Homo sapiens: one gene and its partner. The protein of the gene in region 1 purifies or fractionates together with the protein of each later gene. This does not show direct contact. Each region holds a gene or a part of one and is shown on either strand. Other genes may lie near its edges.

Evidence for each region.
Region 2: the proteins of SH3RF3 (region 1) and KCTD3 purify together in Homo sapiens (affinity purification with mass spectrometry, with the first as the bait; one large-scale study listed by BioGRID). This does not show direct contact.

What each region holds. Positions count from the first base shown.
Region 1 is NC_000002.12:109,499,539-109,503,225, reverse strand, and holds part of SH3RF3 (E3 ubiquitin-protein ligase SH3RF3), read right to left. Parts: intron 1,724-3,687; coding exon 1,555-1,723; 3' UTR 1-1,554. UniProt on the Homo sapiens protein: Has E3 ubiquitin-protein ligase activity.
Region 2 is NC_000001.11:215,577,189-215,580,875, forward strand, and holds part of KCTD3 (BTB/POZ domain-containing protein KCTD3), read left to right. Parts: intron 1-481; coding exon 482-540; intron 541-740; exon of another isoform or gene 741-802; coding exon of another isoform or gene 803-812; coding exon 813-893; intron 894-1,811; coding exon 1,812-1,949; intron 1,950-2,720; coding exon 2,721-2,811; intron 2,812-3,687. UniProt on the Homo sapiens protein: Accessory subunit of potassium/sodium hyperpolarization-activated cyclic nucleotide-gated channel 3 (HCN3) up-regulating its cell-surface expression and current density without affecting its voltage dependence and kinetics.

The DNA of each region.
Region 1 (3,687 bases):
TTTGTAAAAATATAGGTGGAGAGAGGGGTGATGGATCAAAATTTTGAGGTGATAAAAATGTGTTCCTAAGGTGTGAATCTTGAGAACAAAATTGTCCCTGAAGGGCTCCTGATCAGTCTTCCTGGGAAGTGAGCCATGGTGCTAATGAATATACATTCATCAGCCCCACTCAGGGAGGTCCCAGCATCAAAGCTGCACCTCCTCCTCTCTCGCCCTCCCAACTCCCCGATCTTGCAAGCCTGCAGCGGTGCTGCAACCCCCTGATCTCCTTGTACCTCTGGTCTCCAGCAGATGAAGGTTTGCACTGCCTGAAATGGGAGCAGTTATTTATTTTTAAAAAAGAAGAAAAATGGTGGTGGTGATCTAAACTGTTGTAGAAACTGCACATTTTGATACCAAGAAATCATCTTCTGAGAATGCTAATTGCAGTTCTCTCTGAGGCAATAAAGGGAAGATTTTGCCTTCCCGGCTGGGGTTGACCTGCGTGCTCCTTCTACCGCCACACAAAAGGACAATTATAGTGGCCCTTCCTCGAAATGTTTCCAGGTCTTGAATAATAATCATCACCGTCTAGACAGAGCGCGGGGTTTTGGTAAGAGTTTAAAGAAACCGGCTGCTTCCAAGCTCCCTCCGACCCCCTCAATGGATCCACCCCGCCAGCCCCCAGAGTACTGGCCAGCGCTGAGGTGCGGGATGGCGGCTTCTCGGCGCTCTCCCAAAGCCATATGGGAAATATAAAAATTCTGCCCCTTTGATGTCGCCTCAGACATCTTTTCTTTCAAGCTCAACCAAGTCATTATTAGTTTTACAAAAAGGCAGCACCAGATGTATGAAAAATAGGCAATGTCTGACCTATTAGAAATATATAAAGTCTAACAGCTTTATGTTAAAAATATGCTGTAAGAAAGAAGTAATGCAAGGGACAATGGTGGTGAACAGAAAGTGTTGCTTATACTACTGGCAGGCGACAAGCCCACAGATTCTGCTCTGGTTCCCAACAGGGGCGGTGGGGTGCCCCTTCCGGGGCACCCCCAGGGCCTCACAAACACCCCTGCTGAGCAGCCGGGCGGCAGGTGACTGAGGTATATAGAATGGTGACAGAGCAACCTGGGCCCCGCGGGAAGCCCAGGGCAGCCCAGAAAGATGATCTCCAGCGCTCCTGGCCCCCATGCCACCCACCTCGCCTGCAGACCTCCTGCAACCTCCAACCCTGCTTAGGTGGTAAATGAGAACGCTGCCATGGCTGCAAACCACAGCCACAGGCCTGCCTGCGCCGGCACCTGCCTCTCTTCCTCAAGGTGCTTTCTTTGCAGTTTCCACAGAGGGGGTGGGCATTTCCTTGAAGAACATCCCAGGTGTGCTCTCCGTTTGGGGGTTTTGGGAGAAGGCACGACCTCCACAGTCCCTGGCCCCCACCCTGGGCCAGGGTATCCCCCGCCAGGTGCCTTGGAGATGACCTGGAACCCTTGGGGCGCCATGGCTCCCTCTCTGTGTGCCGTGGAGCTTCCCAGGCGGCCTCCCCCTCTGTGAGCTGGGTGCAGGGAGCACCAGTTCTCAGAAGCTCTCGACGAAGCTGCCCGGGAAGAGGCCTGTGCGGCCGTTCCGCTGCAGGGTCCCCTTGTACCAGCCGTCCTCACGCTTCTTGTGCACAAAGACGATGTCGCCTTCCTTCAGCTCGATCTCCGCCTCACTCTGGGGTGGGTACGAGACCACCACGCGGTACCTGGGGAAACAGCACAGTGGGTGAGCCCCACACAGACAATCTCCATCTGCTGGGTCGTGCTTTCTCTTCTTCCCTCGGTGTAAATTATTGTTATTTGCTGCTATTTTCCCACTTTATACAATTTCTATTTATCTTTATTTTTAATTTTTTCAAAACTCTGGAAATTTTTCATTTTTTAATAAAAAAAATTTAAAAGGCATTTCCCCCTGCTGTCCTTTTAGACGCTGATCTACGAAGAAGCTGGACTGTTTCACTCCCTTGAAGATTCTCCACCCAAGCACAGCCCCCCATCTCATATCCACGCTCCTGCCCTGGCCCACCCACCTAGACTGCGGCCTCCCAGGGGCAGGGGCGGGGGAGGGTCAGGAAAAACTGTGTCCCCATTTGCCCCATCCCAGTGTCAAGACCCTGGGCTCGTGTCCTCACCTCTCCCTCTGCAGGTTCCTCTGAAAAGCACGCTCCTCAACTGCAGCACCACCTCACAGGTTGGGGCCCAATGTGATGTGTGAAAGGTACTTGGAACATTGTTTATGTAAATTGTCCTTATTTTTTTGAGACAGGGTCTTGCTCTTCCACCCAGGCTGGAGTGCCGTGGTATGATCCTAGCTCACCGAAGCCTTGAGCTCCCAGGCTCAAGTAAGCCTCCCACCTCAGCCTCCCGAATAGCTGGGACCAAGGCACATACCACCATGCCCAGCCAATTTCTAATTTTTTTTTGTAGAGATGGGGTCTTGCTATGTTGCCCAGGCTGGTCTTGAACTCCTGAGTGCAAGTGATCCGCTGGCCTCAGGCTCTCCAAGTGCTGGGATTACGAGCATGAGCCACCGTGCCTAACCTGTCCTTATTTTTAAATGTGCTCCAAAAATCATAAGATTTTTTTCCCAGTGCCTTAGCATTGGAACTGGCTGAGGCCACAACATCAACATCAATAAGGCCCAACTTTCCCCACATCTCATTTCCACAAGACTTGGGCCCCCTGCAGCCTCTGAGGCCTCTTTGGAGTCCCTGTCTTCAGACCAATATGCTGTAGTGTGGAATCAGAGACAGGAGCCTTCCCTGGGGTCTTCCCTGCATGGCCTCCGCCTGCAGGGACCCAGGGGCATGGGGTGTGCTGCGTGGCAGGTGCTGGAGCTCTGAGTGCACCCCAGGGGCTCTCTGGGCTGTGGCAGGTGCTCCTGGCAACACTTAGCTGTGGCACTGACCAAGAGTTCTCTCCTCGACCACACTCCAGCCTGGCTCCTCTGAGCCCTCTTCTTGGCTGGGCCTCACCTCTGCCTATAACAACTTGAACAACCACTAACATAGCTTCTAACAGCTCAAGGTGGCATCCCTAGGCTGACCCCAGTCCCCTTTAAAGTGCCTGCCTGAGAAACCTCACGGCAGCCAAAAGAATCGACTGTGGGTTCCAGCCACACCTGAGGACAGCCACACACTGTCTCCTGACTTCAGTGAGCACGTCAGCATGTCCAGATGTGTTCACACGGACCACCCGCTTCCACCATCTGTAACTTTTCACTTCCCCCACTCTCCTGAGCCCCCACTCGCTGCCTCCCTGCTCCCTCATTCTCTCTTGGAAACCCCCAGTCACTTGTGTGCCAATTGAACCTGAGCTCAGCTCAGCCTGGACCCTATTCCCCATTGCAAATGTCAGTTATGTTGCCGATTAAAACCTGTCTGACTACTTTCACTAGTGTCCGGCTATGATTATGTTTGACAGGACACACACACACATACACACACACCCCCCTGCTCTGCTATCCCACACCCATCCTGCAAGCCACAGAGGAGGAGGAACAAGGCTGAAAAGCAGCTGTGGTGGCCCCAGGAGAGCCTTCCTCTAAAACACTGCCAAGGACGAACCAGTTGGGCCTTGTGCCCTCGGCCCTTATGCTTAGAGTCTGACAGGCAGGGCCCCATCCCCACTCCCACTAGCTGGGCCTCCCTCTGCCCTGGGGAAACTCCAC
Region 2 (3,687 bases), on another chromosome or scaffold:
ATACAAGCACTATGCTAGGCACTGTGAGGTATACAAACATAGATCAGAAATAGATCATGCTCGCAGGGAATTTATAGTGTAATTGGGGAGATTAAGATAGATATGTATAGAAATAATTGCGATAAAAAGTTAAAAGCAACTAATGCCATAAAAGAATGGTTTCCATTCTATCGTTTGCCTTCTAGACAATTTATTTGTACTAGCCTGATAGAGCCCTAATCTCTCCTTTAGTGACCCAATTCATATATATGTATATATATGAATGGTTTTTAAGTAGATAACAGAATATTTTTGTTCACATGCAGTTTTTATTTACACTTTTTAATGATTAAGGATAATAGAAATAAAGAGTATTAGGAGGAAAATAATTTTTAAAGCCTTATGACTATATACATGAAGAACCTAGAATTTTTTCCTTTCATGTCAGATGATAATACAGGTTTCCAGTGTTAGAGAATTTACATCATTTGTTTCTTTGTAGGGGAGTGAGTATTAATGTTCTCAGGCATGAAGCAGAATTTTACGGGATCACTCCATTAGGTATGTGCTCTTTTAATATTTGGTGTTTATGATTTGACTCATGTATGAAAGTTGCCCTAAATGAAATGTGTTTATATCAGGTCCTAATTTTTGATGGACTTGTTCAGTGCTTAGTTTTTGTGGATTTTCATAGTAAAAAGATGTTGTCAACTCTGACTTAATTAAAATTTTCCTTTTCTTTCCTTATCCTCTTGAACTAGAGAAAATAAAAATGGAGTACTGTTTTTCTGTTTGCATGTACTCTTGACAAGTTTGCTTTGAAATGTTTTTAGTAAGAAGGCTTCTCTTATGTGAAGAATTGGAGCGTTCCTCTTGTGGCAGTGTCCTTTTTCATGGTTACTTGCCCCCACCAGGTATTTTCACTTTATTAAATCTTTTAAAAAATTCCTTGTATCATTAAGCAAGTACAAGCATATGAATAGGAAAAACTGCTCCTTGATTATTGAGTTTTTTGTCTATAAATCTATTAGAAATGGTAAGAACTTTTGATTTTTATAGAAATTAAGTCACATTATATATTGGAGCAGGGGTTTGGCAAACTTTTTCTGTAAAGAGCCAGATAGATTTTGTGAGCCAGAGGATCTCTGTGACAGCCACTTAACTCCGCTGTGTATACTACATGAAGACTAGGTTTAACTGTAACCACTACAACTTTATTTACATAAATAGCATTGATTGGGCTGGATTTTCCATGGCCCATAGTTTGCTGACCCATATGTTAGAGCACTGGTTGTCAAACTGCTTTTTTGCAAAATTTAAGGAATTCTGCAGAGATAAGTCAGTGTCACCTCAGCCCCACTTTAGTTAGAAGAGCCTGATTTTACCTGTGTTATAATGGACTTCTGAGCAAGATTTCATTTTAAAAAATGTTCCCCTGTCAAATAAAAAATGTTTGAAAGTATGGGGAATTTCAGTTCTAAAGCAGTTAAATTATTACATAGTACCTAACACATAATACCTGTACCATAATTGTAAAGAGTGGCTGGCAGACTGAATTAATTACCCATTAATTCAGTAACCTAAAGCTTATTTATTGTAAACAGTATGACAATACCAGAAATCTGTTGACAGAATTTTGTCTTTGTCTTTGTTTTTTTCATTTTCATTTTATTTTTTAATTGTAATTAAATTATTTGTAATAATTTGCTATATTGGAAGATGTATTTCGGCTTTAATGAAATTCACATTTTTGTTTCTTTGTCACAATGTGATATTTTTAATTTTTGAAAGGTGAACTTAGGAATGTATTTGTTTTCTTCTTCTCTTTATAGGTATTCCTAGTCGTAAAATAAACAACACAGTCAGATCTGCTGATTCTAGGAATGGTCTAAATTCTACAGAAGGTGAAGCCCGGGGAAATGGTACACAGCCTGTTCTCTCTGGAACGGGAGAAGAAACTGTTAGGCTAGGTAAGCAAAGATTACAGAAATAGAAAAAGAAAAATACGTATGTTTTTAGTGCTGGGTGATATTGAGTAATTACTTTTAAAGATTTTTGCCTCATCTCCTTTTTTATCCAGATTTATCATTTATATCTTGGAAAGGTCTCATTTAACACTTAATTTTTATTTAAAATGTTGTGTAATCTTCTATCTTCTCTGAATCTTTAGAACAGGGTTGCCAAAATTTATCTGGTAAGAGCCAGAGATTAAATATTTTAGGCTTTGTGGGCCACGTGTTCTCTGTCAGACCTACTCAACTTTGCCATTGTAGCATGAACACATAATGGACAATATGTAACAAGTAAGCATGGCTGGGTTCTAACAAAACTATTTTTTTTTTTTTTTTTGAGACGGAGTCTCGCTCTGTCGCTCAGGCTGGAGTGCAGTGGTGCCATCTTGGCTCACTGCAAGCTCTGCCTCCTGGGTTTACGCCATTCTCCTGCCTCAGCCTCCGGAGTAGCTGGGACTACAGGCGGCCGCCACCATGCCAGACTAATTTTTTGTATTTTTAATAGAGATGAGGTTTCACCGTGTTAGCCAGTATGGTCTCGATCCCCTGACCTCATGATCCGCCCGCCTCGGCCTCCCAAAGTGCTGGGATTACAGGTGTGAGCCACTGTGCCCGGCTCTTAACAAAACTATTAACCAAAACAGGCAGAAGGCTGAAACTGGCCTGGTGGCTGTAATTTGCCAACCCCCGGTTTAGAATGTAAAATATTTCTTTTTCCAAAATCAACAGGATTTCCTGTGGATCCACGAAAGGTGCTAATAGTAGCTGGCCATCACAACTGGATTGTAGCTGCATATGCCCATTTTGCTGTGTGTTACAGGTAGTGTATAATTAATAATGCTTTGCTTTTACAGGTGGCAGTTTGAAAATTAATTGTGATTTTATATTTTTAGATTGAAAAGCTATTTTTTTTTAGTCATCAAGTTTTTTCCCTGCATATTTTACCCATGTCTGTATCATCTGATTAAGATTTAGTGTACTTTTATTTTCACAGCTAATTTGGTAAATGTTTCTGATAGCCTTTATCTGTTGTAAACATTTAGCAGACAAGTGTGAATTGTCATGTAACTGAGATATCCTGATGTATTATTTATTGCTTATACCTAGCTTCTGAGACTGTAGTATATAATGATGTTAGACAGGATTATTAATGTGAGCTCCCTGATGGTCTATCTCTAATGATTCAGTGTTTTGTATTCTATAGCAAGGGAGAGTACATTGGTCATAAATACCACATTTTGGGAAGTGAGGTAGTAAAGCAGGACAGTTATTGCACAAGTGGTATAGTTTAATATCTAATATGTGAAACTTACAAAGAAGTAGTTTGGTTTTACTAATGCTTACATTCTCAGAGCCTGAGAAGCAATGAAGAATAGTGTAGACCGGTGATTTTTTTTTTTTTAATTGGGAAAGTGATAGGACTCTTAGTTCAAAATCACTGTACTCATTGAGAAATGTTGATGACAGAGAATGGTGTAGAAGCACAAAAGTGGTTGGAATATACTAGCTTAGATTATTATTTCATTTAATTGCAGAAAAATCAAAGATACATAAACTATTTGTTTATCACTGTTGAGTTCGGTTAAGAAAAATAGTCACAATAAGCTGAAAAATATCTAAAATGTCTTCTAAAGTTTACAGATATAGTTTAAAGAATCCCAGATGTATTTTTTTTTTAAAAATCTGAATTTATGAA